Linked DNA regions of Homo sapiens: region 1 is linked to region 2. A link means that fine-mapping ties the variant in region 2 to the expression of a gene that starts in the linked region. Tissue or cell type: whole blood. Region 2 holds a variant in brackets; the other region holds the start of a gene. All regions are shown on one strand. Distances are between the middles of the regions. Region 1 holds the start of ST6GAL1 (ST6 beta-galactoside alpha-2,6-sialyltransferase 1). Region 2 has its middle 28 kb from the start of ST6GAL1.

Evidence for each region. PIP is the estimated chance that this variant, and not a neighbour inherited with it, causes the effect.
Region 1: it holds the start of ST6GAL1, and the variant in region 2 is fine-mapped to the expression of ST6GAL1 in whole blood (INTERVAL, PIP above 0.99).

Annotation. Positions count from the first base shown.
Region 1 is chr3:186,922,490-186,938,889 of GRCh38, reverse strand. ST6GAL1 (ST6 beta-galactoside alpha-2,6-sialyltransferase 1) reads right to left here and starts at 8,364. Exons shown (of 8, transcript NM_173216.2): 1 at 8,056-8,364. It also overlaps the pseudogene RPL29P9. RefSeq lists enhancers at 5,918-5,977, 5,998-6,047, 8,141-8,749 and silencers at 7,944-8,133, 8,374-8,453.
Region 2 is chr3:186,894,646-186,911,045 of GRCh38, reverse strand. It overlaps the pseudogene RPS20P14. Among named protein-coding and RNA genes, the nearest start is that of ST6GAL1, 28 kb to the left of the region's middle. RefSeq lists enhancers at 723-1,417, 1,436-1,485, 1,556-1,655, 1,418-2,113, 12,597-13,117 and 3 more. The variant G/C (reference allele first, on the strand shown) is at 7,517.

The DNA.
Region 1 (16,400 bases), 28 kb before region 2:
GTATCATGTGACTGAAATAGCTATGGCTCGGCTGATAAGATGTCTGGGATGTACTTGCACGTAATCTGGGGTTGACCATGGGGTTACGGATCAGCCATGCGTTTCAGTCATAGTTGAAGCCAAGGGATATGATATAGGGTTCCTTACACTCTTCTTTGTGCTTTTGTATGTTTGAAATTTTCCCTAATAAAAAAGACCTTTTATTCTTTTTTTATGCATCATGTGAACGATCATTTTTCTCTCTCAACTTGTCACTTGGTGGGGGTTTCCATTTTAATTAACTTTCTGCTTCCCTCAGCACAGAAAACCAAACAATGGCCTGCTGTCATGGTAAGAAAAAATATCAGGAGCAAAAGTGTGCGGCTTGTGAAAACCTCAGTTATAACAATAACAGCTATTACTTAACTGAATGCTTCTTGTATACCTGGCACTGTACTGAGCCTTTCACCCACGATTTCATCTAATGCTCATAATCACCCTATGAGATAAGGTCTGTTATCCCCATTTTACAGAGAAGGAAATTGAAGCTTAGTAAGCTTAAGTAGCTTGTCCAAGTCTACATAGGCGATACATAGTGGGCAAGAAAGCAAATCCCGACTTGCTTGCGCTGTTAGTTTTTCCCATTCCCACAATATATATTTAGCTACTTTAAGACTTTATAGGTAATTGAACTAAATCCATGAAGTTTTAAAAATGGTCATACCCTTTAAAGTATAACCCAGTAATTTCAACTTTAGGACTACCCTATGGGAATCATCTGGAAAATGAACAGAGATTTCTTCATGAATATTTTATTTTATTTCATTTCATTTCATTTTGAGACAGTCTTGCTCTGTCACCCAGTCTGCAGTGCAGTGGTGCGATCTCAGCTCACTGCAACCTCCGCCTACTGGGTTCCAGCAATTCTCCCACCTCAGCCTCCTGAGTAACTGGGATTATAGGCACCCGCCACCACGCCTGGCTGTTTTTTTGTATTTTTGGTAGAGACAGGGTTTCACCATGTTGGCCAGGCTGGTCTCGAACTCCTGATCTCAGGTGATCTGCCTGCATCAGCCTCCCAAAGTGCTGGGATTACAGGAGTGAGCCACCACTCCTGGCTCTTCACAGATATTTTAATCACAGTGTCAATTACAATAAGAGAAAGTTAGATGTGGTTGGCTGTCCAGTGTGGCCTCATGCAGGAGGCCATTCCCACTGCTCCAGTCATTGGTGACTCCCTCCTCAAGGTCGCACGGCATCCTGCACTAATCTCTTGTTACCCCTGCCTCCTCCTTTGAACTATGAGCTTCTAAAAAACTAAGCTCTTCTTATTTGTCTTTGGTTTAGAGTGGGCACTCAAATATGTGGTGAATAAATTAATAAGTGACCTTGGAGTTGCTCATTTAACATATGCAGACGTTGAAGACTGGGGTATTAAAGTTAAGTTTTTGAAGGTCACAAGGGCAGACTGGAACTCAAGGCCATGTGCAGGCCTCTTCTCTCCCCACTGTACTGTCAGTACCTGTAGACTTCTAAAGAACCGACGGGTGATGGCTGAACACCTGAGGCAATGGTGGGAAAGGCAGAGGCAGTTGGAGGCTCCTGAAATTTTATAGGCCCTCACTGAAATGATCAGATCCCAGGGGCCCACACATCCTTGGAGACGCCGAACAGCTGATATGGGTGACGAATGAAAGAATACAGCTTTAATGCAATGTTAACCATGAAATGTATATATGGGAAGGTTAAGCAAGAAGGCAAGAGACATAACTGCACATACAGTATGTTCTCAACCATTTACAAAAAATATATCCATTTAAAAAAAAAAGAAGAAGGAAAATTGCCAACTGTTAAGAGGGGTTGCCTTTGGATAGCGGAATTTTTTTCTGTTTCTCTATGTTTTTTTGTACAGTACTTTCCAAATTATCCTCAATGGTCAAGCTTTTTCTTTTTTTTTTTTTTTTTTTTTTTGAGACAGTCTTGCTCTGTCACCCAGGCTGGAGTACAGTAATACAATCTTGGCTCACTGCAACCTCCGCCTCCAGGGTTCAAACGATTCTCCTGCCTCAGCCTCCAAAGTAGCTAAGATTACAGGCACCTGCCCACCATGTCCGGCTGATTTTTGTGTTTTTAGTAGAGATGGGGTTTCACGATGTTGGCCAGGCTGGTCTTGAACTCCTGACCTCAGGTGATCCAGCTGCTTCAGCCTCCCAAAGTGCTGAAATTACAGGCATGAGCCGCTGTGCCCAGCCCCTAGCTTTATTTTTATAATCAGAATAAATAAAATTTAAATCACTACATTGATTCTGAAGGCTAACCTGACCTTTCTGGTGTAATAATTACTTAGAAAATCATCTCAGTATTTTAATATGGTGAAACTGTACTGCTCAATGCTACTGTTACATATAAGCCTATCAAAAATACATCTATAGGAGTCAGACTGCCATCGTATAGTTTTCTGCAGACAAGCAAGAAAAAATTCATTTGCCTCTAATTCAGTTCTTATGGAACAAATCACTGATACTACATCAGAGCAACTAATTCCCTGTCTAAATTCTCAGGAATCTAATGGTCCAGAACAATTACTGTGAATTTCATTAATGAATTATTCCTGTATATTTTTAATGCAACCATGTCCTCATATTTATGGAGGGCCAGATTTTCTCTGAAGCCTTCCCTCTTGTATTCTGTCATTTACCACCTGCTCTTCCCTTTATTCATGAAGAGAAGGGGACCCCAGAGGTCAATACTGAGACAAATTAGATCAATTTTCTCTGAGCTCCTGAGGGCAATTTCTAAGGGAGAGCCAAAAGTGTTTTAAGCAAGGGTGGTGGAGCTAGGCTGGACTTCCCTCGGACAAAGAATGGGTGGGTCTCCATGCTCTTTGTAATCCCAGGCTAAGCACAAGACCCCCTCCACTCCCACCACCTGTTTGTCGGTAAATACAGAATACATAAATAGAATGACTTGAGATATTACTCACTTATGTGTGAAGGTTCTGGGTTTTTTTCTTTTTTTTTTTACTAGTTCTAGTCACCTTAGAGTCACACAAACTTCACAACTGCTCAAAGCCTCCCTTGATAGTTTGGCAGGCCTTGCTTTACACCTCTTTGTGACAGGTGAGGTCTTCTAATCTGAGCACATGAGCTTACCCTACGGGGTCATTCTCCCACTAACATTCCCTACCACTTTAAAAGCTGGTCTCACACCAGTCAGAATGGATATTATCAGAAAGTCAAAAAGTAACAGATGCTGGCAAGGTTGCAAAGAAAAGGCAATGCTGATACACTGTTGGTGGGAGTGTAAATTAGTTCAACCATTGTAGAAAGCAGTGTGGGGATTGCTCGAAAAACTAAAAATAGAACTACCATTGACCCAGCAATCCCATTACTGAGTAAATACCCGAAGGAATATAAATTGTTCTACCATAAAGACACATGCGCGCATATGTTCACTGCAGCACTATTCACAACAGCAAAGATCTAAATACCCATCAACAGTAGCCTAGATAAAGAAAATGTGGTACATATATATATATACTATGGAATACTATGCAGCCATAAAAAAGAATGAGATCATATCCTCTGCAGGAACAGGGATGGAGCTGGAGGTCATTATCTTTAGCAAACTAATGCAGGAGCAGAAAATCAATACCACATGTTCTTACTTATAAGTGGGAGCTAAATAATGAGAACACGTGGACACAAAGAGGGGAAACGACAGACACCAGGGCCTTCTTGAAGGGTGGAGGGTGGGAGGAGGAAACGGAGCAGGGAAAATCATTACTGGGTACTAGGTTTAGTACCTGAGTGACTAAATACTCTGTACACCAAACCCCCGTGACACAAGTTTACCTGTATAACAAACCTGCACATGTACCTCTGAACCCAAAATAAAAGTTTAAAAAAAATAAAATTTTTGATCGAGACCATCCTGGCTAACAAGGTGAAACCCCGTCTTTACTAAACATACAAAAATTAGCCGGGCGTGGTGGCGGGCACCTGTAGTCCCAGCTACTCGGGAGGCTGAGGCAGGAGAATGGCGTGAACCCGGGAGGCGGAGCTTGCAGTGAGCCGAGATTGCACCACTGCACTCCAGCCTGGGTGACAGAGCGAGACGCCATCTGAAAAAATAAATAAATAAATAAATACATAAATAAATAAAATTTTTTAAAAGCTGGTAAGCACTCAAGCCTGCCAAGAGGTCTGACCAGTCATAAGAATGCATCATGTGACTTAATGCCCTCAACAACCCCAGGAGATTCATACGCCTTACTCCCCTCACTTTACACAACGCAGAGGCAGCCTGCTGGTTTTCTGTTGTTGTTGTTTTGTTTTATTTTCTGTTTTTGAGACAGGGTCTCGCTATGTCCCCAGGCTGGAGTACAGTGGTGAGATCGCGGCTCACTGCAACCTCCACCTCCCAGGCTCCAGCGATTCTCCTGTCTCAGCCTCCCAGGTAGCTGGGACCACAGGAGTACGCCACCATGCCCAGCTAATTTTGTTCTTTTATTTTTTGTAGAGATGGCGGTGGGGGAGGTAGTCTCACTATGTTGCTCAGGCTGGTCTCAAACTCCTGAGCTCAAGGAATTCGAACTCTTCCCTCCTCGGCCTCCTGAAGTGCTGTGATTACTGGAGTGAGCCACCACACCTGGCCCAGCCTGCTGGTTTTAAAGTAATACTAGAGACAGGAAGATGACCCCAAACCCCTCCTATGGCCTGAGCATCTTCCGCTCCGCTGGAACAGCCTGTGCAGAGACTGGGCAAGGAGAACCCTCACTGTACAAAGAAGGAAACTGGAGCCCAAGAGGTTAAGTAGCATGAACAGCTAAGTGGCGCCTCTCTCTTCTGTCTTCTCACTGCCTCTTGCCTTATGATTTCATACAAAGCAGCCCCTAAATGGGGAAGCACAAGACAGAGACATGGAGGAACCCAGCACAAGAGTAAAGTGAACCGTTCAGCAAACACTAAAGAAAGCTGATCCCCAGAGATAATTGCACTATTCAGCATACCTACTACTGGGATCCCTGGCTTTGCTTAATAACCAAACCTATTTAAATCCATAAGGAATTGGTTCTCTGACTTAAAGGGTGTTGTTATAACAACCATAACTTTGGCTTTTCTCTGGAGTACCAACAACTACTGGTTTGATGCAACCATTTCCCTTTTACGCAAAAAGGTGCACTAAAAGTAGACCACGCATTGTTGTGTATCATTAGGCAAGCAATTTCTCTTCTCTAGGCCTCACTTTTCCCATCTGGAAAGTAAAAGGGTCCAGTCACATGATTTCTGAAGTTCCTTACAGGGTCAGCGTCCTGGTGAGAAAACTATACTGCAGTGCCAAGAGGAATTGATGTAGGATTTTTCTTCTTGGTCCTCGGGCCAGCAATGCCCCACCTGTGCTCGCTCGGCCATGCAGGTGTGTCCCAGCTCACTGTATTATAGCTTGTACCCGCGTTCGGTGGTTCCGAGCTCGTGCACCACACCAAAGGATAATGAGGATACACTGGACATTGAAGGGAGAGGAAGGCAGATAAGAATTTTATTGAGTGTTGAAAACAGCTTTCAGCAGAGAGGGGACACCGGGTTGGTCCCCTACCTGAAGACGGAAAAGTTCCCCAATGTGGCTGGGTCAGGGGCCTTTTATGGACTCAGAATAGGGAGTGCATGCTGACCGGTTTGTGAGTATGCAAAAAAGATGAAAGCAAAGACACCACTCAAAGGTGGGCACGGCAGCGTAGAAAACCAATTAGGAAAAAGTGGGTATATGTAAAACAGGCGAAATGTAGGAATCAATTAGGGGAAAGCACGCCAAACAAGTTCTCACTCTGGTCTGAGGATTTAACTCGTAGCTTGGCTTTCAGGCTTTAAACTGTCTTTGGCCTGGAGGTGGGGGTTTCACCGGGTACCTGACCCTATCTGCCTAGGCATCCAGCTGCCTCCTGTTGCTACCAGAATCACATTGAAAGTGAAACACGCTGGAAACTCTAAGGAAAAGAAACAAGTGTAACTAGGAGATAACAGGCACAGTGCAAAACAACATGTTAACTTTGGGGAAATCCGGCTTCTCAGTGTTTTTTTGGTTTTCCTACTTCTCTGCCAAATACAAAAATAAGCAGCTACTTCCATGGGACTCTCGTTAAAAAAAAAGTAACTTTAATAAGATCAGTGAAAACAATGCTTTGTTCTCCCACAAGTGGCTCAGGAGTAGCTTGCTAAGACACACTTTCTTCCCCGTGGGGCTGATGTCAACAGCCCATGCTTTTGCCCAAACAAAGGCCTCCTGGCACAAGGATGAGAGGCAAAACATCTGAGTCTCCGTAGCTGGCCTTATTCCAATTTGAGGGGAAGGGGCAGCCAGGAGAGAAAAATAACTAAGCTTTTGAAAGGCTTGAAGGAGAGTAAGGAATTACTAAATCTATTTTTTCTCAACAGAATAAAGAATTCTTGAAAGGGATAATGGAAGGGTGCAGCTTTCTATTTGAATTACTCTTTGTTTCACCCTATTCTGCCTAAGGCCACTGCCTTTTAGGCCAATCACAGAATCCCGGTTTTGCCTTTAGTTGCCCGCTGAGCGATGCAGTGGGAGTTGGGAGACCCACACTCAAGTGTTCTCTCTGTGGCCCGTTTCACCCGGTTTAAACTTGGACAAGTGGCTGAACTCTCCGGCCTCAGCTTCCTGCCTGTAAAATGAGAAGGCTCCCTAGATGCTCTCTAGACCTTTTCAATAACAGCGGAATAGGATTGGAGGCTCTCCAGTTCCCCCCCCGGGGACAGGTTAATCTTCAGCCACACTAGCCAAGGTGAGGCAGCAGCCCGCCCGCTCAGCAGGCACACACTGGGGCGGCGGCGCCTCCATTCCTGCTCACACTGCACGCCCACAACCTGCACCAACACCATCGCCTCAGAGACCAATTCACCGCGAAACCATCTCCCCGCTGCAGATCGTGTCCGATTAACATCTGCAAAGCTGAGCTGAGCATATGTAAGCAAAGAAAAAGCAAAACAAACAAGAGTTCTCTTTTTCCGGACCTCGGAATTTCTTTCAAATAAACTCAGAACTGAAAATTGTACGTCCCCAGCTAGAATACGAGGTCTCGGCTGGCCTTGCTTGCGAAAATGCATTAACAAGCCAAAAGGGGCTAGTGACATCTGGGGTGTCTGGGCACACGGACACGGGCCTCAGAGGCAAAGAGCAAGACCGCACTGGGCGACTCGTACATTCTTCCCGCAGGCTGAGGAGGCGACCAAAATATCCCCACAGAGGCAATCGCCGGAGTGCGGGGACAATAGTGCACCCAGCACTCTCTTTTTTTGAGGGGCACCCTTAGACCCTTAACCCAACCCACATCTCTAAGAGACCTCCAGGAGGTGAAGGTGAGGGGTGGTCCACTTCACCCAAAAGAATGCGCCACGGCCGGGGACCGACTCAGCCTGGAGTAACCTTTTTGTAGCTGCTTTCTTGTTTTGGTTTCCCTTTTTAAGTCTGGCAGTTTAGTCTGATGCCCAAGCGGTACCTTTTAAATGTCTCTCTCGCCCTCTTCCAGCAAGTGGCGCCTCTAGAGCCACTCCCTCCCCCGAGGCTGAGACAATGGCCCGGCACCGCAGGGCGGCCCCTAAGGGTATGCAGTGCGTCCAGCTCTCCGGGCAGGGCGCACGTGCGTTTGTTATGGTGCCTGTGCCCCCTCCGCTGCCGCGGGCCTCAATTTGTCGATCCGTAAACCCAGACTCTGCAAGGCGCAATGCCCCCACGCCACCCCACCCCATACTGACGGTGCCGTGGAGAAATCCGTGTTCCCCGGGGCTGTGCGCACGTGGGTTTGTTGTGGATCCGCAGGCTCGCGGAGCCAGAGAGAAGCCAGGGTGGCCCTTTGGCCCTGACAAAAATGCACACACCCCCAACCAAAAGGCGGCCAGCCCCGGAGCCAAGGCAGCTGAGGCGGAGCTGGAGAGAGATTCCCTGCGCCCTACGCGCGCCGCGGGCCCCGCGCCTCCGCTATCCTCCCGCGCCCCTTTGCATCACACTCCTCCCGGGATAGCCCGGGCCGCGCCGCCGCCCACCGCACCCCCTACTCACTCGCTGCACTCTCGGCCGCGGAGGCTGCGGTTGCTCAGCACGCTCGGTGGCGGCCGCCCGCTCCGCGCCCACGCCGGTCGGTATCGGCTCCCTTTGTTAACGCCGGGCAGTGCCCCAGGCGTCTTCCCCAGCCCGGCCCTGCCCAGGACTCCCCTCCCCCAGGTGACTCCAGAAAACGCGCTCGGCAAGGGCAGGATCGCCCGGGAGCTGGGGACCCCACTAGGGAGTCTCGAAAGAGGGGTCCGCTGGGGAAGAACGGGGGACAGAAGACGCACAGTGGAAGGGACTGGAGAAGGAAGGAAGAAGAGCGCGGCGGAGGGGCGGGAAGGAAGCGAGTCGCCTCCGTATGCAAATAGAGTTGCGAAGACTGGGTCGGTCTCCGCCCCCACTCCACCTCTCGCCACCGGCCACACCGCGCCCCAAACCGGCCTGGAGGTCGCTAGCGAGCGGGCTTGGGGTTAAAGACTCTTGATGAAGGCACTGGGTGATGCTAGAATCCTGCCTGCTCTCAAGGAGGGTGGATCGAGGGCCGAGTGGGAGGGGCCACGCGGCTGCGCAAGGACCCCTAAATGCCTCTTCCCCGCTTGGCCGCGAGGGGTCAATCCAGCAGTGTCCGGCTTTTGGTCCTAACATGCGGGTGCTGTACACCCGGTCTCTGCTACCGGCTGACTGCGAGACCCTGAGGAAGTCGCTTAACCTCTCCGAAGACTCGTGTTGCTCTTATCTAGAATAGGAAAGAACAAAATCTTTCACTGCGTTTGGCATTAACCTCCTAACATTGAGGCATGACTCCTACTGGGCGCTCTCAAATGGCAAATACAGAAGGAGAGGAGCGTCCTCGAACCCCTGCACCCAGAGGCTTCCACCCCAAGCTGCAGGCTGAAAGACTGAAGCCTCAGCCTGGATGGTGAAGGGAGCGAGGTTCTTTCTTTTCACCCGGACGACGGTGGGGCTGCTGGGGAAGGAAAGAGGATTAACCAAGCTGCGTACTGACCATCCCCGATAGCCCCAAGGCGATTTCCCTAAGAAAGAAAAACTGCCCAACAGGAGGGCGGAAGGGGCCTTTAAGGCCTCCAGTCCAGCCTCCCATAGCCCAAAGAGAGGATGTGACTACCAGAGGCAATAGTCATATCCCAGTTGTCTACTGAGTGCACACTAGGCACCAGGCTGTGTGCTGGGTGGGAAAGGGGAAAGGAAGGAGATACTGGAAGGTTTGGGGGTCCTCTGGGAACACAAAGTCCAGTGCACACTTAAAGTGCCTGAAGCCCAGGCCCAGAGTTCTGTCTCCAAATGAGGTGCCTACCCCACATCACCAACCTTGGAAAGGGAAGTTACATCCGCACCCTGTCCCCAGCACCCTTCTTCCAAACACTGCTTCCTCCCTGTCCTGATCCTGGCTCCCTTCTGCTGATACTGTCATTCCCTTCCCTGCTGCCCCTGAGGCATTTTTGCTCAGTACAAAGAGCTCCAATTGAAGGGAGTGCCAGCCAGAGTGAATTCAAATCTTTATGACCAACTCGCTGTGCCTTCTTGGGTGAGTTCCACATCCTGTGAGCCTCCCTTTCCTCTTCTGCAAAATGGAGATATTAAGGAAAGCGTTGTTTTCAGGATCCTGTGAAATGACCTACGTGAAACACGTAGCTTAGTGTTTGGCATATAGAAGGTGCTCCTGACAGTAAAATGTATGTATGCGTGAATGAATAGAAGCAGCCAAGTTCAGAAGACTATTTCTGGAAGGATGCTACATTGAAGATTTTAGGCCCTATTCGAAAAAGGGAAAAAAAAAAAGGAGGCTATTAAAAGATTCTGTGCAGTAGCATGACATGCATCTTTGTATTTTACAAGGATTCCTCTGGCACCACACTGGAAAATAGATGGCAGAAGCAGAGAATGCAAGAGACTAGATTGGAAGCTGACATCAATGGAGATATAATAAGAGCCTGAACTGTGTCAGTGACTGTAACAAGACAGAAGAAAAGGACATCTAAATAATAGCTACCATTTGGAGATCTGACATGGTTTGGCTCTGTGTCCCCACCCAAAAATCTCATCTTGAATTGTAATCCACATGTGTCAGGGGAGGGACCTCCTGGGAGGTGATTGGATCGTGGGGGGCGGTTTCCCCCATGATGTTTTTGTGATAGGGAGCTCTCACGGGATCTGGTTGTTTGATAAGTGTCTGGCATTTCCCCTGCATTCTCTCTCTCACCTGCCGCCATGTAAGATGTGCCCTGCTTCCCCTTCACCTTCCACCATGATTATAAGTTTCCTGAGGCCTCCCCAGCCATATGGAACTGTGAGTCAATTAAACCTCTTTTGTTTATAAATTACCCAGTCTCAGGTAATTTATAATTTTCTCAGTAGTGTGACAATGGACTAATACAGGATTCAAAGCACCTTATTTATTACATTGTCTCTCCTTTTCATCAGATAAGTAATGGTCTTAGTCCTATTTTATGGATTAGGAAACTGAAGTCATCTAGGAAGTGAAGAGAGAATTTGACACATTCTTCCACTTTCTTTGAAAGCTTTAATCATCTCCTTCATCATCACCCATATGTCAACATTACTTAAGAACTAAGAACAGCCTGGTGCGGTGGTTCACGCCTGTAATCCCAGCACTTTGGGAGGCCTAGGCGGGCGGATCATGAGGTCAGGAGACCAAGACCATCTTGGCTAGCACAGTGGAACCTTGTCTCTACTAAAAACACAAAACAAATTAACCGGGGCTGGGCGTGGTGGCTCACGCCTGTAATCCCAGCACCTTGGGAGGCCGAGGCGGGCGGATCACAGGTCAGGAGATCAAGACCATCCTGGCTAACATGGTGAAACTCCATCTCTACTAAAAATACAAAAACAAAATTAGGCGGGCACGCGATGACGGGCGCCTGTAGTCCCAGCCACTCAGGAGGCTGAGGCCGGAGAATGGTGTGAACCCAGGAGGCGGAGCTTACAGTGAGCCGAGATCACGCCACTGCACTCCACAAAAGCAGAAGGCGCTCTTTCAGAGGTTGTCCAGTCCCCACTCCGCAGTTCTCTTTTGCAGAGAACTGGAAAACCAAATTAAGGAGAAAACAAGGGAAAAGGTTATCTCAACACTGAGATAAGCACAGATGATATGACACGTGCAAAAATTTCCTGGGCGTCTGAGACAGATGAGTGGGCAAGCAAGGGTGCTCCTGGTAAAATTCCAGGATGGGGGCCATTGTGGAGCAGCCTCCACCAAGGTTCTCTCTTATCACTTAGGACCCTCTGACCTATAAGTGAGAGGCAGAGGCTGGGGCATTACTTTGGAGATGATCCTGTCCTCCCAGTCTATACATGTGAGGCTTCTCCTCCCATTTTCTCTGGGGTCCCTGCCTTGACAGGTTGGTTTTGGTTTTTTTGAGAAGTACAGATACCCACTTTCCCTCTGGACAGTATCTCAGTTCTGGGCCCTCCACCCACAGCTTCCTGCTATGGTCTGCATGTTGTATCCCCCCAAAATTCGTACAATGAATTCCTAACCCCCAAGATGATGGTATTTGGAGGTGGGGCATCTGGAGGAGGTGATTAGGTTATGAGGGCAGAGCCCTCACAAATGGAACTAGCGCCCTTATAAAAGAGACCCGGACCAGGCATGGTGGCTCACACCTGTAATCCCAGCATTTTGGGAGATTGAGACGGGCAGATCACCTGAGGTCGGGAGTTCGAGACTAGCCTGGTCAACATGGTGAAACTTCATCTCTACTAAAAATACAAAAAATTAGTTGGGCGTGGTGGCAGTCACCTGTAGTCCCAGGTACTCGGGAGGCTGAGGCAGGAGAATTGCTTGAACCCGGAAGGCAGAGGTTGCAGTGAGCCAAGATCACGCCACTGCACTCCAGCCTGGGCAAACAGAGCAAGACTCTCTCTCAAAAATAAGTAAATAAATAAATAAATATTAAAAAGTAAAATAAAAGAGACTCCAGAGAGCTAGCTAGCCCCTTCCAACATGTGAGGCTGCAGCTAGAAGGTACCACTTATGACCAGGAGACTGAGCCTTCTCTGAACACCAAGTCTGCCATTATTTTAATGTTGGACTTACCAGCCTCTAAAACCATAAGCAATAAACTCCTGTTGTTTACAAGCCACCCGATTTATGGTGTTTTTGTTATAGCAGCCCAAACAGACTAACACATTCCCCATCCCTCCCCCAACCCTTGACCTCAACCTTAGCCAATATATAATATTTTTAGGTAATGCATTGCTCAGTCATCATTTCAGACATCTTACGGATTAATACACATAATTTTCATTTACAACAATCCACTTGCAAATAATATGTTCATAACACTCTTGAATTGGAGGTGATGTTTCATGAGGGGAAAAAAAAAAGACAATAAGCAGTTGAAAATTTCCTCCCAAATCTTTCTTCCCCACCCACTACAGATGTTCATCAAGTTCCTTAAATAAACCTCACAGCTCTCCTCTTCATATCACGTCTCCTCTTCAGTACATGTTGTCTAATATGAGGATAGGTTCGGGGCCTAAAAGAACTGTGGTTTGCCTGTGCCCACCATGTTGGCTTTCAGTGCTGCCAGCCTTATGGATGATTTTATATATATATATATATATATATATATATATATATATATATATATATATATATATGTTCACAGCTAGTCTACTAAGTCTGTAGAACTCAAGTTTAAAAGTAGAAAGAAAATAGCAGCATGCTCAGCCCCCTTGCCGTGTGATGCCCTGTGCCACTATAGAACTCTGCAGACTCCCCACTTGCATGAAAGCTCTCACCAGATACAGTCCATTGACCTTGGACTCCTCAGCCTCCATAACTATAAGAAATGACTTCCTTTTCTTTATTAAAAGAGAGAGAGAGAGAATAACAGCATCTCTAATTTAAGCACACAGGGATGGCTCCTGCTGATTGCTGTGAGGCAGACCTGCACAGATGGGCTGATAAAGCAGAGTGGGGGCAGAGAAGAAGAGTGCTAGAATGCAGGGGCTGGAAACTAGAAACAGGTCTCATGAAAGGATCACAGCCACAAGACTGGGAGGATGGCTGGCCCCACAGCCCCAAGTACAGCAAGAAGTGACTTGCTGGCTCCAGAAACCTCAGAGTAGAACATGGGCATGGCGAGATCAGGATAGGTCAGAGAAATAGACATATACGTATCATGTGGGCACATGAGTAGTTAGGCTGCCCTTCACCCAATTATCTTCTGTGTCCAACCCCATCCTAAGTCCCTGGGAAGATACGAGGAGAAACCAAGACTCTGTTCCCAAATCACATGTGTTTTAGCAAAATATCTCAGTTCGTAATAATGATTTTCATGTATTGAACATCTACTCATAAGCTATGCCCAGGAGACCAGATACACTGATAATGGCAGGGAATACAAGAGCTCGGGGACTCTGAGGAAGCAAAGATGCTTATAATAAATTCTCTCAAAAAGATTCAGGAAATTGGCTTCTCTTGGGAGACTTCTATCAGAACCAAAGTAGAAATTGCCTCCTATGTATTAATGATCTAAGGATGACAGTTAGAATAAATCGTAGGGATAGTCAATGTTTTGTGCAAGAGGTTACACAGGTCAATGAAAGTTCTTTGCAGTTAATTTCTTTGAGTGGAGGAGGATCAGTGTTTGCTGCCTGGTGGTGATCTGTCCCGAGCCTGCGTCCGTAAGGTCTCATGTTTTTAATAGTGTTTTTTCTGATGTTACAGTTAACATTTGCTTTAGAAAATTCAGAAAAGTCAGACAAAGTTAAAGAAGCAAGGAGGAAAAATTGTCAGCCCATCAACCACAAACAGAATTGAACCATTTGGCCTGTTTTCTTCCTGGGCATTTTTCTGCAACTTTCTATAGTTAAAATTATAATGTATGTACAGTGATATCCGGCTTTTCTCCCCCATTTAAATATGTCATAAGCATTTCCTATGTGTATTTAACAATAAATGTAGTCATTCAGTTTAGCCCTTATTACATGCAAAGCAAGCATTCTTCAGCAAATTATTAGTGGTTTATTGTACTAATGGTTGGCTATACAAGAGACAGTTTCGTGGTTGAGAGGATTCTCAAGTCAGGTTTGAATCCTGACTCTTCTACCTCCTAGCTTGGTGACTTTGGACAAATTACTTAACTTCTCTGGCTCTGTTTCCTTAACTGTAAAGTAAGGATAATAGTATCTGCCCCATAAAGTTATTTTAACTAATACATGGGCCGGGCATGGTGGTTCATACCTGTAATCCCACCACTTTGGGAGGCTGAGACAGATGGATCAACTGAGGTCAGGAGTTCAAGACCAGCCTGGCCAACATGGCGAAACCCCGTCTCTACTAAAAAGTACAAAAATTAGCCAGGCATGGTGGTGGGCACCTATAATCCCAGCTACTCAGGAGGCTGAGGCAGGGAGAATTGCTTGAACCTGGGAGGTGGAGGTTACAGTGAGCTGAGATCACGCCATTGCACTCTAGCCTGGTCAACAGAGAGAGACTCTGTCTCAAAAAAAATAAATTAATTAATAACAAGAAAAGTGCTTAAAGCAATACCTGGCACAGTAAGCACAGAATAAGCGGTAGCTATTAACAATATGTGAATGCGTCGTAAATTATTCAACCATTCTCCTACAGCTGGAAATTAAGGTTGTTTTTGGTCACGCCTGTAATCTCAGCACGTGGGGAGGCAGAGGCTGGTGGATCCTGAGGTCAAGAGTTCGAGACCAGCCTGGCCAACATAGTGAAACCTTGTCTCTACTAAAAATACAAAAAATTAGCCAGGCATGGTGGCGGGCGCCTGTATCACAACAAGCTAATTTTTTGTGTTTTTTGTAGAGACGGGGTTTCAACATGCTGCCCAAGCTGGTCTCGAATTTCTGATCTCAAGTCATCTGCCCGCTTCACCCTCCCAAAGTACTGCGATTACAGGCATGGGCCGTGGCACACAGCCAGTGAAGCTGATTTCTTTTTTTTTTTTTTTTTTAGATGGAGTCTCGCTCTGTCTCTCAGGTTGGAGTGCAGTGGTGCGATCCTGGCTCACTGCAACCTCCGCCTCCTAGGTTCAAGCAATTCTCTTGCCTCAGCCTCCCGAGTAGCTGGGATTACAGGCACCCGCCACCACACCCAGCTAATTTTTGTATTTTAGTAGAGACAGGGTTTCACCATGTGGGCCAGGCTGGTCTTGAACTCCTGACCTCAGGTGATCCGCCCACCTCAGCCTCCCAAAGTGCTGGATTACAGGCATGAGCCACGGCACCCACCCAGTGATGCTGAATTCTTAACCAAAATATATGACTAGTTACAGCAAGTGACGGCCAGCGCTGAGTCCTGGTGACTTGAACATTCAGTTAAAAGGATTACCCCATCACTGACTGTGTTTTACTCACATGTGTTTTCTACATCTCACCCCAAGGAGAGCCAATATTTTATGAGAGAGGCCACATAACACACAGCACACCAGTTTAGGAGACAGCAGGCCTGCATTCCACATTAAACTCTCACAACCAGCCTGCAGACCTCAGCTAAGGCACTTGCCCTTTCTTGTTCTCAGTTTACTACTTTATGAACAAGGGCAGTTGGACAAAATAAGTTGTTTTCAAGCCTGGCTGAACTTTGGAGTCACCTGCTGAAATTGTTTATAGTATAAATGCTCATTCTCCTCCCCAGGATATAATGGTTCTGGGGTCAGACGCTGGGTATCTATAATTGTTAACAAATTTCCCAGGCAAGGCTGATGAGCTGCAGGGTTTACAGACAAGTCCACTGGGTTACCTCTAAGGCTCTTTCTAGCTTCTCACAAAGAAATTCCTCCAAAGGGAAAAAGCCACCAACCATGCCTGAACATGTTCGTGCTCCTTCACCAAGGGAGCTTTCTCTGCTGGTGCTGCCCTGAGTGAGGAACCCTTTGCCAAGGGACTGTGGGCTTTAGACAGCAGAGGCGTGGTTACAGCCTCAGCAACAGTCTCATTGATTATCATCACCGGTAGTTAATTAAACACAAATAGCTGGGCAATAACCTTTGGAAAAAGCCACATTTCTTATCATTAAGCTATTTCCTGCTCTTCCGATTGTAGGTGCTTCAGGAGCCACAGCTTAAAGTGCAGACATGGCCAAGTCCAAGAACCACACCACACACAACCAGTCCCAAAAATGGCACAGAAATGGTATCAAGAAAGCCTGATCACAAAGATACGAATCTCTTAAGGGGGTCGACCCCAAGTTCCTGAGGAACATGTGCTTTGCCAAGAAGCACAACAAGAAGAGCCTAAAGAAGATGCAGGCCAACAGTGCCGAGGCCATGAGTGCACATGCCGAGGCTATCAGGGCCCTTGTGAAGCCCAAGGAGGCTAAGCCCAAGATCCCAAAGGAT
Region 2 (16,400 bases):
TAAATTCGCATAGATTGAAGCTGGGATGGGAACTCGTATCTTCCAAACTTTAAAAACTACGAACCTGGCCGGGCATGGTGGCTCATACGTGTAATCCCAACACTTTGAGAGGCCGAGACAGGTGGATCACTTGAGGTCAGGAATTCAAGACCAGCCAGGCCAACATGGTGAAACCCTGTCTCTACTAAAAATACAAAAATTAGCTGGGCATGGTGGCACATGCTGTAATCCTAGCTACTTGGGAAGCTGAGTCAGGAGAATCGCTTGAGCCCAGGAGGTGGAGGTTGCAGTGAGTCGAGATCACACCACTGCACTCTAGCCTGGTTACAGAATGAGACTCACTCTCAAAAAACAAATAAATAGGCTGGATGCGGTGGCTTACACTGGTAATCCCAGCACTTTGGGAGGTCAGGGCGGGAGGATCACCTGAGGTCAGGAATTCGAGACCAGCCTGACCAACATGGAGAAACCCCATCTCTACTAAAAATACAAAATTAGCTGAGCGTGGTAGCACATGCCTGTAATCCCAGCTATTCAGGAGGCTGAGGCAGGAGAATTGCTTGAACCCGGGAGGCGAAGTTTGCAGTGAGCTGAGATCGCACCATCGCACTCCAGCCTGGGAGACAAGAGTGAAACTCCATCTCAAAAATAAATAAATAAATAAATAAATAGAAAGAAAAAGAAAAACTATGAACCTTACTGCTCTCTTACCTCCCATACCCTGAGGTTAAGGAACTTGAAGACTTAATATGATTAATAAATTAATATGCCAGAAATTACGATGCATTTAAAGTGCTTGACACAGTGTCCAGCAAGTAGTGCATAGATGTTCGCTGTTATAATAATGGTAATTATCTTTATTTAATACTATAATATGATATTAAAAATGTTATGATAGGCCAGGCGCAATGGCTCATGCCTGTAATCCCAGCACTTCGGGAGGCCGAGGCGGGTGGATCACCTGAGGTCAGGAGTTCAAGACCAGCCTGGCCAACATGGGGAAACCTCGCCTCTACTGAAAATGAAAAAAAAATTGGTGCTGGCAAGATGGCCGAATAGGAAAAGCTCCGGTCTGCAGCTCCCAGTGAGATCATGCAGAAGGCAGGAGATTTCTTCATTTCCAACTGAGGTACCCAGTTCATCTCACAGGGACTGGTTGGATAGTGGGTGCAGCCCACGAAGAGCGAGCCAAAGCAGGGTGGGGTGTAGCCTCACCCAGGAAGCACAGGAAGCACAAGCGGTCGGGGGATTTGCCTCCCCTAGCCAAGGGAAGCCGTGAGGGACTGTGCCGTGGCCAACAGAGCACTCTGGCCCAGATACTGTGCTTTTCACATGGTCTTTGCAACCTGCAGACCAGGAGATTCCCTCCAGTTGCCCATGCCACCAGGGCCCTGGATTTCAAGCACAAAACCGGGTGGCCGTTTGGGCAGACATTGAGCTAGCTACAGGAGTTGTTTTTTCATACCCCAGAGGCACCTGGAATGCCAGCGAGACAGAACCGTTCACTCCCCTGGAAAGGGGGCTGAAGCCTGGGAACCAAGTGTTCTAGCTCAGAGGGTCCCACCCCCACGGAGCCCAGCAAGCTAAGATCCACTGGCTTGAGATTCTCGCTGCCAGCGCAGCAGTCTGAAGTTGACCTGGGACATTCAAGCTTCGTCGGGGGAGGAGCATCCGCCATTGCTGAGGCTTGGGTAGGTGGTTTTACCCTCACAGTGTAAACAAAACCGCCAGGAAGTTCAAACTGGGTGGAGCCCACCGCAGCTCAGCAGGGCCACTGTAGCCAGACTGCCTCTCTAGATTCCTCCTCTCTGGGCAGCACATCTCTGAAAAAAAGGCAGCAGCCCCAGTCAGGGACTTACAGATAAAACCCCCATCTCCCTGGGACAGAGCACCTGAGGGAAAGGGCAGCTGTGGGTGCAGCTTCAGCAGACTCAAACGTCCCTGCCTGATGGCTCTGAAGAGAGCAGTGGACCTCCCAGCACAGCGTTCGAGCTCTGATAAGGGTCATACTGCCTCCTCAAGTGGGTCCCTGACCCCTGTGTATCCTGACTGGAAGACACCTCCCAGTAGGGGCCGACAGACACCTCATACAGGAGAGCTCTGGCTGGCATCTGGCAGGTGTCCCTCTGGGACAAAGCTTCCAGAGGAAGAAACAGGCAGCAATCTGCTGTTCTGCAGCCTCTGCTGGTGATATCCAGGCAAACAGGGTCTGGTGTGGACCTCCAGCAAACTCCAGCAGACCTGCAGCAGAGGGGCCTGACTGTTAGGAGGAAAACTAACAAACAGAAAAGAATAGCATCAACATCAACAAAGAGGATGTCCACACAAAAACCCCATCCGAAGGTCACCAACATCCAAGACCAAAGGTAGATAAATCCATGAAGATGGGGATAAACCAGCACAAAAAGGCTGAAAATTCCAAAAACCAGAATGCCTATTCTCCTCCAAAGGATCACAACTCTTTGCCAGCAAGGGAACAAATCTGGACGGAGAATGGGTTTGACGAATTGACAGAAGTAGGCTTTAGAAGATGGGTAATAACAAATTCCTCCGAGTTAAAGGAGCATGTTCTAATCCAATGCAAGGAAGCTAAGAACCTTGAAAAAAGGTTAGATGAATTGCTAACTAGAATAACTAGTTTATAGAAGAACATAAATGACCTGATGGAGCTAAAAAACACAGCACCAGAACTTCGTGAAGCATACACAAGTATCAATAGCCTAATCAATCAAGCAGAAGAAAGGATATCACAGATTGAAGATGAACTTAATGAAATAAAGTGAGAAGACAAGATTTGTTATAATTATCATTATTTAATACTATAGTATTTTCAAAGAATGAAAAGAAACAAACAAAGCCTCCAAGAAATATGGGACTATGTGAAAAGACCAAATCTACGTTTCATTGGTGTACCTGAAAGTGATGGGGAGAATGGAACCAAGTTGGAACACACTCTTCAGGATATTATGCAGGAGAACTTCCCCAACCTAGCAAGGCAGGCCAACATTCAAATTCAGGTAATACAGAGAACACCATAAAGATACTCCTCCAGAAGAGCAACCCCAAGACACACAATCGTCAAATTCACCAAGGTTGACATGAAGGAAAAAATGTTAAGGCAGCCAGAGAGAAAGGTCGGCTTACCCACAAAGGGAAAACCATCAGACTAACAGCGGATCTCTCAGCAGAAACCCTACAAGCCAGAAGAGAATGGGGGCCAATATTCAACATTCTTGAAGAATTTTCAACCAAGAATTTCATATCCAGCCAAACTGAGCTTCATAAGTGAAGAAGTAAAATCCTTTTCAGACAAGCAAATGCTGAGAGATTTTGTCACCACCAGGCCTGCCTTACAAGAGCTCCTGAAGGAAGCACTAAATGTGGAAAGGAACAACCGGTACCAGCCACTGCAAAAACATACCAAATTGTAAAGACCATCGACACTATGAAGAAACTGCACCAACTAACAGGCAAAATAACCAGCTAGCACCATAATGACAGAATTAAATTTACACATAACAATATTAACCTTAAATGTAAACGGGCTAAATGCCCCGATTAAAAGACACAGACTGGCAAATTGGATAAAGAGTCAAGATCCATCAATGGTGCTGTATTCAGGAGACCCATCTCATGTGCAGAGACACACATAGGCTCAAAAGAAAGGGATGGAAGAATATTTACCAAGCAAATGGAAAGCAAAAAAAAGCAGGGGTTGAAGTCCTAGTCTCTGATAAAACAGACTTTAAACCAACAAAGATCAAAAGAGACAATGAAGGGTATTACACAATCGTAAAGAAATCAATGCAACAAGAAGGGCTAACTACGCTAAATATATATGCACCCAATACGGGAGCACCCAGATTCATAAAGCAAGTTCTTAGAGACCTACAAAGAAACTTAGACTCCCACACAATAATAATGGGAGACTTTAACACTCCACTGTCAATATTAGACAGATCAATGAGACAAAATTAACAAGGATATTCAGGACTTGAACTCAGCTCTGGAACAATAGACCTAATAGATATCTACAGAACTCTCCACCCAAAATAAACAGAATATACATTCTTCTCAGCACCACATCACACTTATTCTAAAATTGACCACATAATTGAAAGTAAAGCACTCCTCAGCAAATGCAAAAGAACGGAAGTCGTAACAGTCTCTCGGACCACAGTGCAATCAAATTAAAACTCAGGATTAAGAAACTCACTAAAAACCACACAACTACATGGAAACTGAACAACCTGCTCCTGAATGACTACTGGGTAAATAATGAAATTAAGGCAGAAATAAAGATGTACTTTGAAACCAATGAGAACAAACACACAACATACCAGAATCTCTGGGACACATTTAAAGCAGTGTTTAAAGGGAAATTTATAGCACTAAATGCCCACAAGAGAAAGCAGGAACGATCTAAACTTTACACCCTAACATCACAATTAAAATAACTAGAGAAGCAAGGGCAAACAAATTCAACAGCTAGCAGAAGACAAGAAATAGCTAAGATCAGAGCAGAACTGAAGGAGATAAAGACACAAAAACACCTTCAAAAAAATAAATGAATCCAGAAGCTGGTTTTTTGAAAAGATCAACAAAACAGATAGACTGCTAGCCAGACTAATAAAGAAGAAAAGAGAGAAGAATCAAACAGAAGCAATAAAAAATGATAAAGGGGATATCACCACTGATCCCACAGAAATACAAGCTACCATCAGAGAATACTATAAACACCACTGTGCAAATAAACTAGAAAATCTAGAAGAAATGGATAAATTCCTGGACACATACACCCTTTCAAGACTAAACCAGGAAGAAGTCGAGTCCCTGAATAGACCAATAACAGGCTCTGAAATTGAGGCAGTAATTAATAATCTACCAACCAAAAAAAATCCAGAATCAGACGGATTCACAGCCGAATTCTACCAGAGGTACAACGAGGAGCTGGTACCATTCCTTTTGAAATGATTCCAAACAATAGAAAAAGAGGGAATCCTCCCTAACTCATTTTATGAGGCCAGCATCATCCTGATACCAAAACTTGGCAGAGACACAACAAAAAAAAAGAACATTACAGGCCAATATTCCTGATGAACATCCATGCGAAAATCCTCAATAAAATACTGGCAAACCAAACCCAACAGCACATCAAAAAGCTTATCCACCAAGATCAAGTTGGCTTCATCCCTGGGATGCGAGGCTGTTTAAACATATGCAAATCAATAAACGTACTCCATCACATAAACAGAACCAATGACAAAAACCACATGATTATCTCAATAGATGCAGAAAAGGCCTTCGATAAAATACAATAGCCTTTCAGGCTAAAAACTCTCAATAAACTTGGTATTGATGGAACGTATTTCAAAATAATAAGAGCTATTTATGACAAACCCACAGCCAATATCATACTGAATGGGGAAAAACTGGAAGCATTCCCTTTGAAAACCGGCACAAGACAAGCATGCCCTCTCTTACCACTCCTATTCAACATAATATTGGAAGTTCTGGCCAGGGCAATTGGACAAGAGAAAGAAATAAAGTGTATTCAATTAGGAAATGAAGAAGTCAAATTGTCTCTGTTTGCAGATGACATGATTGTATATTTAGAAAACCCCATTATCTCAGCCCAATATCTCCTTAAGCTGATAAGCAACTTCAGCAAAGTCTCAGGATACAAAATCAATGTACAAAAATCACAAGCATTCGTATACACCAATAACAGACAAACAGAGAGCCATTCACAATTGCTACAAAAAGAATAAAATACCTAGGAATCCAACTTACAAGGGATGTGAAGGACCTCTTCAAGGAGAACTACAAATCACTGCTCAATGAAATAAGAGAGGACACAAACAAATGGAAGAACATTCCATGCTCATGGATAAGAAGAATCAATATCGTTAAAAAGGCCATACTGCCCAAAGTAATTTATAGATTCAGTGCTGTCCCCATCAAGCTACCATTGACTTTCTTCAAAAAATTGGAAAAAAACTAGTATGAATTTCATATGAAACTAAAAAAGAGCCCACATTGCCAAGACAATCCTAAGCAAAAAGAACAAAGCTGGAGGCATCACATTACCTGACTTCAAACTATACTACAAGGCTACAGTAACCAAAACAGCATGGTACTGATACCAAAACAGATATATAGACTAATGGAACAGAACAGAGGCCTCAGAGATAATACCACACATCTACAAGCATCTGATCTTTGACAAACCTGACAAAAACAAGCAATGGAGAAAGGATTCCCTATTTCATAAATGGTGTTGGGAAAACTGGCTAGCCACATGCAGAAAACTGAAACTGGATCCCTTCCTTACACCTTATACAAAAATTAAGTCAAGATGAATTAAAGACTTAAACATAAGACCTAAAACCATAAAAACCCTAGAAGAAAACCTAGGCAATACCATTCAGGACATAGGCATGGGCAAAGACTTCATGACTAAAACACCAAAAGCAATGGCAACAAAAGCCAAAATTAACAAATGGGATCTAATTAAACTAAACAGCTTCTGCACAGCAGAAGAAACTATCATCAGAGTGAACAGGCAACCTACAGAATGGGAGAAAATTTTTGCAATCTATCCATCTGACAAAGGGCTAATATCCAGAATCTACAACGAACTTTAACAAATTTACAAGAATAAAACAACCCCATCAAAAAGTGGGCAAAGGATATGAACAGACACTCCTCAAAAGAAGACATTTATGCAGCCAACAAACATATGAAGAAAAGCTCATCATCACTGGTCATTTGAGAAATGCAAATCAAAAGCACAGTGAGATACCATCTCATGCCAGTTAGAATGGCAATCATTAAAAAGTCAGGAAACAACAGATGCTGGGGAGGATGTGGAGAAATAGGAATGCTTTTACATTGTTGATGGGAGTGTAAATTAATTCAACCATTGTGGAAGACAGTGTGGTGGTTCCTCAAGGATTTAGAATTAGAAATACTAATTGACCCAGCAATCCCATTACTGAGTATACACCCAAAGGATTAAAAATAATTCTACTATGAAGACATACGCACATGTATGTTTATTGTGGCACTGTTCACAATAGCAAAGATTTGGAACCAACCCAAATGCCCATCAATGATCGACTGGATAAAGAAGATGTGGCACATATACACCATGGAATACTATGCAGCCATAAAAAAGGATGAGTTCTTGTCCTTTGCAGGGACATGGATGAAGCTGGAAACCATCATTCTCAGCAACCTAACACAAGAACAGAAAACCAAACACCACATGTTCTCACTCATAAGTGGTAGCTGAACAATCAGAACACATGGACACAGGGAGGGGAACATCACATACTGAGACCTGCCAGGGGTTGCAGGGAGTAAAGGAGGGATAGCATTAGGAGAAATACTTAACGTAGATTATGGGTTGATGGGTGTAGCAAACCACCATGGCACATGTATACCTATGTAACAAACCTGCACATTCTGCACATGTACCCCAGAACGTAAAGTATAATAATTTTAAAAAATA[G/C]AAAAAAAATAGCTGGACATGGTAGTGTGCACCTGTAGTCCCAGCTACTTGGGAGGATGGGGCTGGAGATTTGCTTGAACCTGGGAGGTGGAGTTTGCAGTGAGCCAAGATCGTGCCACTGCACTCCCGTCCAGGCAACAGAGCAAGACTCTGTCTCAAAAAAAAAAAAAAAAAATGCTATAATAGAACTAAGCACACGATGTCATGGAAATATAGAGAAGGAAAATCTGCTAATCCTTTTGATGAACCAGGAAGATGATCCAGGGTGTCTTCCTGGAGGAGATAACAGACGCTGACTTTTAAAAGTAAGTAAAGATTTAGCCAGATAAAAAGTGAGGAGATGAGGATATTCCTGGCAGGGAGAACAGCATGATAGATTAAGAGAACTGGTCTGGCTGAATTGGAAGACATGTGGAGAATATGGCTGGAGAACAGGTGGAAAACATAAGTCATTGCTAGATGAAGAGTTTACATCATATGTCCTATGCTAAGGAGTTTAGACCTTAAAGCCAGTGGGAACTCACTGAAGGGTATTAAGCAGAAGAATGTCCCACTGATACTTTTCTGAACGCTCACTCTGGCTGTGTGGAAGACTGATAGAAGGGGACAGCTTTGGAGAGAGAGAGAACTGGTTATGGTGATGATTACTGTAACAGTCTTCCTAAGAACTCATGAGTCCTAAGGCAGAGGTAGAGTTGGTGGAGAGTTCTTTAGGACCGTGGTTATCAAAATATGGTCTACAGACACTTTCAGGGGGTCCATGAGGTCACAACTATTTTCACAATTACAGTAAGATCATATTTGGGTTTTTCACTGTGTTGACATTTGCACTAATAGTGCAAAAGAAATAATGGGTAAAACTGTTAGTGTCTTAGTACAATGAGGCACTAAAGTCCACTAGTAGTCTTGCGTGCTTCACCACCATCAACTCACAGGGAAAAAAAAGTTTTTTAAATATCCTTTATGAAGCAATAAATATTATTAATTTTTATTAAGTCTTTACCTTTGAGTACATATCCTTTTTTTTCTATCATTCCTGAATCACCAGCCTCCTTTTTTTTTTTTTAGGTAGGGTTTTTGCTCGATTGCTCAGGCTGGAATGCAGTGGCGTGATCTCAGCTCCCTGCAGCTTTGACTTCCTGGGCTCAAGCAATTCTCCCACCTCAACCTTCCTGGTAGTTGGGACCACAGGCATGCACCACCAGGCCCAGCTAATTTTTGTTTGTTTGTTTTGTAAAGACAGGGTCTCACTCTGTTGCCCAGATTGGTCTCAAACTCCTGGGCTCAAGTAATCTGCCTGCCTCAGCCTCTCAAAATGCTGGGATTACAGGCATGAGCCACTGTGCCCACAACCTTTTAATACTCTGTGTGATGCGATATACGAAGGATATACAAAGCATTTTAGTTGCAGAGTAAAATATGATGATTGTCCCAAGGAAGAGCGCTTTTGTAGTTAAGTTATGAACTGAACTAACCGTTTTATTTTTTTATGGAACATGAAAAAAACTTTTATATTAAAAGTTTTACCATACTTTTAACTTCTAGTATGGTAAATATGATTTCACCTGAAAGAAAATTACTAGTATAAACTAGGGTTATCAGACTTGCATATTTGGGAGACGTTTTCTTAAAAGTCAATAAAGTGAACCTCTCACTTCAAGAATAACAAATTTTTCTAGTTTTTATTTTAGTGTTTGTTACTAGTTGTATTTTTTGCCAATGATGAAAACTAAGTTTTCAGGTAAAAATTAGAATTTTGGAAGACTTGTACCCACCCCTGTGAATCTGACAGGTTCCCAATTCTTGAACATTTTTCTGATGACACTAATGGGTGTTGTGGGTTGAATTGTGGCTCCAAAAAAGACATGTTGAAGTCCTAATTTTTTATATCTATGATTGTGACCTTGGCAAACAGGGTTTTCAGATACACTTGAGTTACCATGAGGTCATACTGGATTAGAGGAGGCCCCAAATTCAATGAACTGGTGTTATGAGTATAAATTTGGATACAGAAATGTAGCCACACCCAAGGAAGTAGGCCTGTGAAAACAGAGGCAGAAACTGATGTAATGCAGCTACAAGCCAAGAAATACCAAGGACTTCACACCACCACCAGAAACTCAGAGAGGGGCATGAAAGGATTCTCCTTTAGCCCTTTAAGGAGGAAACCACCCTGCCAACATCTTGATCTCAGACTTCCAGCCTTCAGAAATGTGACAGAATAGATTTCTGTTATTATAAAAAACTACACAATTTGTGGTACTCTGTTACGGCAGCCCTACAAAGCAATACAGTGGTGCAAACATCAAATGTGATTACTTGATATTTAGAGGGAAATGGGTCAATGTCAGGAAGGTATACATGACTCAGTGAATAAAATTTTCAAAGCCCAGCACACAATGTCACAAGGTCATGCATTAAGGGGTAAAAGATTCATTCAAAGTATAAAATAACCCAGTAGATTTTAATATAACAGAGTACAAAAAATTCACTGATATGATTTCAGAATCTACTTTACAGCTAACCTTTAAGAAACTACCACTTGTTGAGCTTTGGTGTAGCAACAAAAGAAGTATCTACAATTACCTAAAAATGATGTTAAAACTCCCCTACCTTTTCCATCTACTTACCTGTTTGAGGATGAATTTTTCTCTGTATACTTCAAACAAAATCATTGCATTTTGGTTGCAACTGAATATATTGCAAGAGAAGCAGATATTGTAATTCAGCTCCTTCTGTTAAGCGACATTAAGAGATTTACAAAAATGTAAAGCAGTGCAACTCTTCTTATTTTTTTTGTTTTGGAAAATAGTTTTCTAATAGAAATGTTAGTGTTAATGTGTCAATGTGTGATTCTTGTAAATATGTGGTGGGCTTATTAGTTATGTCAATATGTGATGGGTTTATTATTTTAAATAAATATATATATATATTTTTTAACAACTGGTAATCAATTTATTAAAATAGTTGACTTAAGCATCTGCAATGGTGACTTCCACCTCAACTCCTGGCTCAGTACTGATGGAAGTAATCTGCTTAACAATCTCAGAAGGACTGTGCAAGTCAAAGAGTCGCTTGTGAATTCTCATCTGGAAACGATCCCACGTCTTAGAACCTTCACCACAAGGAGTTTTTCTTGTAGTGATTCTCAAAGTCTTGGAAGGCATTCGAACTCCTCCTTTCACTTTGAGATTCTTTGCTTTTGCGCCTCTGATCAAGTCAGCACCCACCTTTTCCAAGGATTTTACGCTGCGGCTTGTTAGGGTGATTCGAATTCGGTGAATTGCCACCTCCGGCTCCACGGGTGCTTTTCCGGTATCCTTAAAAGCCATGGCTGCTGCGCGGCTTCATGACCGACTTGTTCCTCGGCGGCGAGAGCGAACAGCGGTGAGTCAGGAGCAGGAGCATGCGGACCAGAAATCCTCGCACCTACGACCGCGTCTTCCTCTTAAAGAAATATTTTTAAATTTTTTATTTTAGCTTCTAGTATGGTAAATATCTATAAATATGGCTCATTTACATAGAGTCTCTTTGAGATACCAATGATTTTTAAGAGTGTAAAAGGATTCAGAGACCAAAGTTTGAGACTCACTAGTTTAAAAGGTAGAAATAATGGCTGGGTGTGGTGGCTCACACCTGTAATGCCAACATTTTGAGAGGCTGAGGTGGGAGGATCACTTGAGGCCAGGAGTTTGAGATAGCCTGGGCAACATAGCAAGATCACCAGATCACCACACACAGATTTTTTTTCTTAATTAGCCAAGCCTGGTGGCACACACCTGTAGTCCTAGCTACTCTGGAGGCTGAGGCAAGAGGGTCACTTGAGTTTTGGAGTTCAAGGCTGCAGTGAACTGTGACACCACCACTGCACTACAGCCTGGGTGACACAGACCAAGACCCTATCTCTGAGAAAAAAAAATGTAGAAATAAAAGAATTTGGCAAGTGATCGGTGGGGTTGGGAGAGAGAGAAGGCTTGTTCCAGTCTTAGGAATTATTCTCCTGATTGGGTTATGTCAAAAAGAACTGGCTTTATGGGAGATGATATGTTCAACCTTGGAAATGATCAGTTTAGGTTGCCTGAAGGACACTCTGGTAGAGCCAACCATTAGCCAAAGATCTATGGGTTTGGAGTGTGGCTGTCTGAACATATCAAATTCACATAGCTGCAGTAACTAATGCCCCAGTCAAGGAGACAATTACTAAGGTAGAGAATCAAGTGAGAAGAGTGCTCAGAATGGAGTCCAGGGTTATATCAATATGGAGGCATAGCAAGAAAGCTGGCTAGAAACCAATCTATGGGTCTGAAAAAGAGTACTCAGTGGGAAGAGAAACCCCACAGGGAGTGATGTCACACAAACCAAATAAGGCAGAATTTTCAAGAAGGGAGGGGTCAATATCAGCAAATATTGCAAAGATACCAACTGTGTCATTACTGCCTGGCTGGCAGCAGTTTTAGAGGTGGTAAGAGACGTCATGCAGGGAGCAGGTATGGTCTGCTCTTTAAATAACAAGCTTGAATTGGACAGACATTCATTATTTTTTTATTTTTTTATTTTGAGACAGCTGATGCCCAAGCTGGAGTGCAGTGGCGCAATCTCAGCTCACTGCAACCTTTGCCTCCCTGGTTCAAGCAATTCTCATGGCTCAGCCTCCCAGGTATCTGGGATAACAGGCGTGTGCCACCACACCCAGCTAAATTTTGTGTGTGTGTATATATACACACATATAATATATACACATAAGTATATACATATACAAAAATAATACATATAAATATAATATATATTATATATATTTAGTAGAGACAGGGTTTCACTATGTTAGCCAGGCTGGTCTCAAACTCGACCACAGGTGATCTGCCTGCCTTGGCCTCCCCAGGTGCTGGGATTACAGGTGTGAGCCACCGCTCCCGGCCACACATCAATAATTTAAACACTGCCTGGCAAGTGGAAAGTGTTCAGCCAACTGGTGTTACTGCTGAGATCGAAGGGAAGGGAGAAATGCTGGCATCCCTAGCCCATCCAAGTTCCTAGTTGGAGGGACACAGTGTAGCTGGCTCCTGCCTGACATGCCACCCTTTTCTGGAGTAGATATGAGAAGCAGGTGGTCCTGCTGGGGTGTAAGGAAGATGGCAGCATTCTAAAGTATAATGATGGGGCACAAACACAAAATCGTTTTCTTTTTGAGTTACTGTCTTCAGCCACCCTCTTTCAGATCCCGCTTTCTAGTTTATTAAAAGGTAGTTTAAAATCTCAGACTCAGCCAGGCATGGTGGCTCATGCCTGTAATCCCAACACTTTGGGAGGCTGAGGCGGGCGGATCACGAGGTCAAGAAATCAAGACCATCCTGGCCAACATGGTGAAACCCTGTCTCTAGTAAAAATACAAAAATTATCTGGGCGTGGTGGTGCGTGCCTGTAGTCCCAGCTACTTGGGAGGCTGAGGCAAGACAATCGCATGAACCCAGGAGGTGGAGGTTGCAGTGAGCTGAAATCACGCCACTGCACTCCAGCCTGGACAACAGAGTGAGAGACTCTGTCTCAAAAAAAAAAAAACAAAAAAACCCTTCAAACTCACTTATCAAGATTGGAGCTGGAATTCTGATGACAACCAGCACTTCCTGTGAGGGGTGGACAAGAGAGAAGGGCATGGGGTGAATGTCACTCTCTAACCAGCCATTGTCGTGATCCTCTCTGTGGTCTCTGTGACCCTCTGGCTAACACAGCCTGGCCTCCTTGCCCTCGGGGTAGCAGGCATTTAGGTGTTGGGTCCGCCATGGGCTCAGATGAGAGCACTTCTGGGTGCTCCCAGATGGGAAGTCCACCTGTTACACCCAAACGAGTTAGAGAAAACGCCACACTTTGAGACGAATTAAGAGTCCTTTATTTAAGCTGGCGGCCAAAGAGACGGCTAATGCTCAAAATTCTCTTGGCCCCGAGGAAGGGGCTTGATTAACTTTTATACCTTGGTTTAGGAAAGGGAGGGAACTCAAATGCAATAATTCTACAGAAGTAAAAACATGCAAGAATCAAAAGAAGCAAATGGTTACAGAGAGATAAACAATTTAAAAGACAAATGATTACAAAAAGCAACGGTACCAGGTGCAGGGCTCTAAATCCTTCATTAGAGTTAGATATAGATGCTATGCCGGACACGAACTCAAGGCTTTATGTTGTTATCTCTTTGAGAAAAATCCTGGGAACTTCATACATGGTTTGTTCCAGTACCTTATCAGTTAACTGGGCTCCTATGAAATGCTGAGGATCTGCTTACACAGGTTAACTCCTTGAGGAAGGGGGTTGGGTATGGAGCACTTAATGTCTTGTAAATCAAAAGGTCAAATGGAGTTTATCCGGCTTTCCCAGCCAGGGAGAGTCTATTCATATGGGAAACATGGCTGGGAATTAAGGAGACAAAAAAAGGGAAAATTTAAAGTAGCGAGCTAGAGTAAAAAACAAGGTTAGGCATTGCACACCTCTGCTATCTTCCCGCCTCCACTGCTCCCAACCCAATAGTCTGCCCCTCTGCTGAGTGGCCTGGCCCAGAGCACAGCCCTCCAGTGTGAAATGCGGCAGACCATGTCCTCAGGATACTCTGCTGTCTGCCTTTGCCATCTCCATCACTCTACCAGCCTCCATTCTCCCCAGACTTGGGATGTGGTGGGGGGTGTTTGTGGTGGTTGGTAGGGCATCAGGGCTGCTCTGCTAACTCTTAAAAAGCCCCAGGAAGGTGGTTGTGCCTAAGTTGGCAGCGCTCTTTAGTAGGGAGAGTACTGTTGCCTACTGTTTTCAGCTGTTGGCTCTGGTGCGTGCAGTAACAGGAAAAGCCCCCCTCAGACCATTAAGTGGCAATGGTGAGAAATGGGAAAGGGGCTGACTGAGTCCAGAGCTGCAAGAGATAAGCTTACAGCAAACCAAGGCCAGATCTCAAGGCAATGATAATTCAAGTTAAGTCATTTGGGCCTGATCCTGAGGTTTAAGGGGAGTCTTTGAAAGGTTTTATGGAAGAGAATGACATAATCAGATATGGGTTTCAGAAAGATCAGTCTGGTGAAAGACAAGAAGAATTAGAAGACTACAAAATGATTCAGGAGAAATACGGTAAGGGCCTACATCGGGATATGATGGGGAACAGAACAGAATCACAGTTAAGATGCACATTGCCTTTGACAGGCCCCCTGGAGCTGAGCACCACCGGCCCTTCTGTGTACAGCACTGTGCTTTGCCCACCAGCTAGAACATCTCTTCCTCAAACGGGGCCCCAGAGCTGATGTGGGTTAGACTTGGCCAGAGAGACCTCTTCTTTCTATATCTGCAGCTGGGCCTACTCTCTATCGCCTAACCCACTGTCACAGGGTGGGTTTTCCAGCAGACATTAAAAAGGAGTTTGGGGATACAATATGCTTATTAAGGATCAGCACCTCTGAAAGGAAAGGGAAGAAGCAGGATCAGGCCCAGGAACAAGTTGAACTGTGATGCGGGCCTGACAAAATGCTCAGGAGCCCCTAGTAGAGGTGGGGAGTGAGGATTGCTTGTCAGCATCTAAGATTAGGTCCCCACTTCATTCGGCAACCAGATGCAGGCTGCCCCAGGAGGGGGCATGACTGTGTGTGGGGCCACTTTACAGCTGAGGCAGAGCACAAATCAACTGAGTCCTGGAGACCCTGCAGCTGAGCCCTGGAGTCCCTGCAGCTGGGTGGCAAGCCCTCCCTTCTAGGGGAATACAGACAAGGCATCTTACTTCTGTCCTGCTCTCGCCTCTGGGCCTCTGGTCAGGCCTGCTCCCCGAGCCTGCCTCACCCACCTCTGCAGCACCTACGGCTCAGGGAGCTTTGCCAGAAGGGCTTTGGAGAAGGAAGCAGGAAGAACCTTAGTCTTTGGAAATGCTATTTATCTGTAATTGTAATCCCAGGCATCCATAATTAGGAGGGTAAGTTTACTTCTGAAGAAATTGTGTCATGCCTTCCCTGCTAAAACATACTTGGGGATTTCCTGCTCTTATAGATTGTATCTGACTCCCTTTCTGCATCAAATAACGTAAAATCAAGAATGCTAATCCTCAAGACTTGGGCCTACTTAATTGCAACAGGAACACGCCCTTAAGACACAGATCACTCAGGCTTTTGTTTGTGGCTTAAGAATGCCTTTAAGCAGTTTTCCGCCCTGGGTGGGCCAGGTGTTCCTTGCCCTCATTCCCGTAAACCTGCAACCTTCCAGCTTGGGTGTTATGGCCATTATGGACATGTTGCGTTTTATTTATGACCAGTTTTGGGGCCAGTTTATGGCCAGATTTTGGGGGGCTTGCTCCCAACACCTGACCTAGAACCAGATTCTTGAAGAAGTGTCTAGGTTGGGCGCGGTAACTCACGCCTGTAATCCCAGCACTTTGGGAGGCTGAGATGGGCGGATCACCTGAGGTCAGGAGTTCGAGACCAGCCTGGCTAACATGGTGAAACACCATCACTACTAAAAATACAAAAATTACCCGGGCACGGCAGCGGGTGCCTGTAATTCCAGCTACTTCGGAGGCTGAGGCAGGAGAATCGCTTGAACCTGGGAGGCGGAGGTTGCGGTGAGCTGAGATCGTGCCATTGCACTCCAGCCTGGGCAATGAGTGAAACTCCATCTCAAAAAAAAAAATCTGATTCTGCCATGAACTTTATCTGAGATGAGCACAGCTCTTAGTTAGCCACCCCAGTCATTAAATTCCTCTGAAAAGGAGAAAGCAGTTTTTATTTTTAGAAAGGTGGCTAGGCAGGCAGTTAGAGGCTGAGACAGACGAGGATGAAGGGACAGAGGATCTTCCCAAACGGTAGTTTCTGACCTCAGTGTGTAATAGAAAGGCATAAATTGTGGTCCGGTGACAGGGTTCACGCCTGTAATC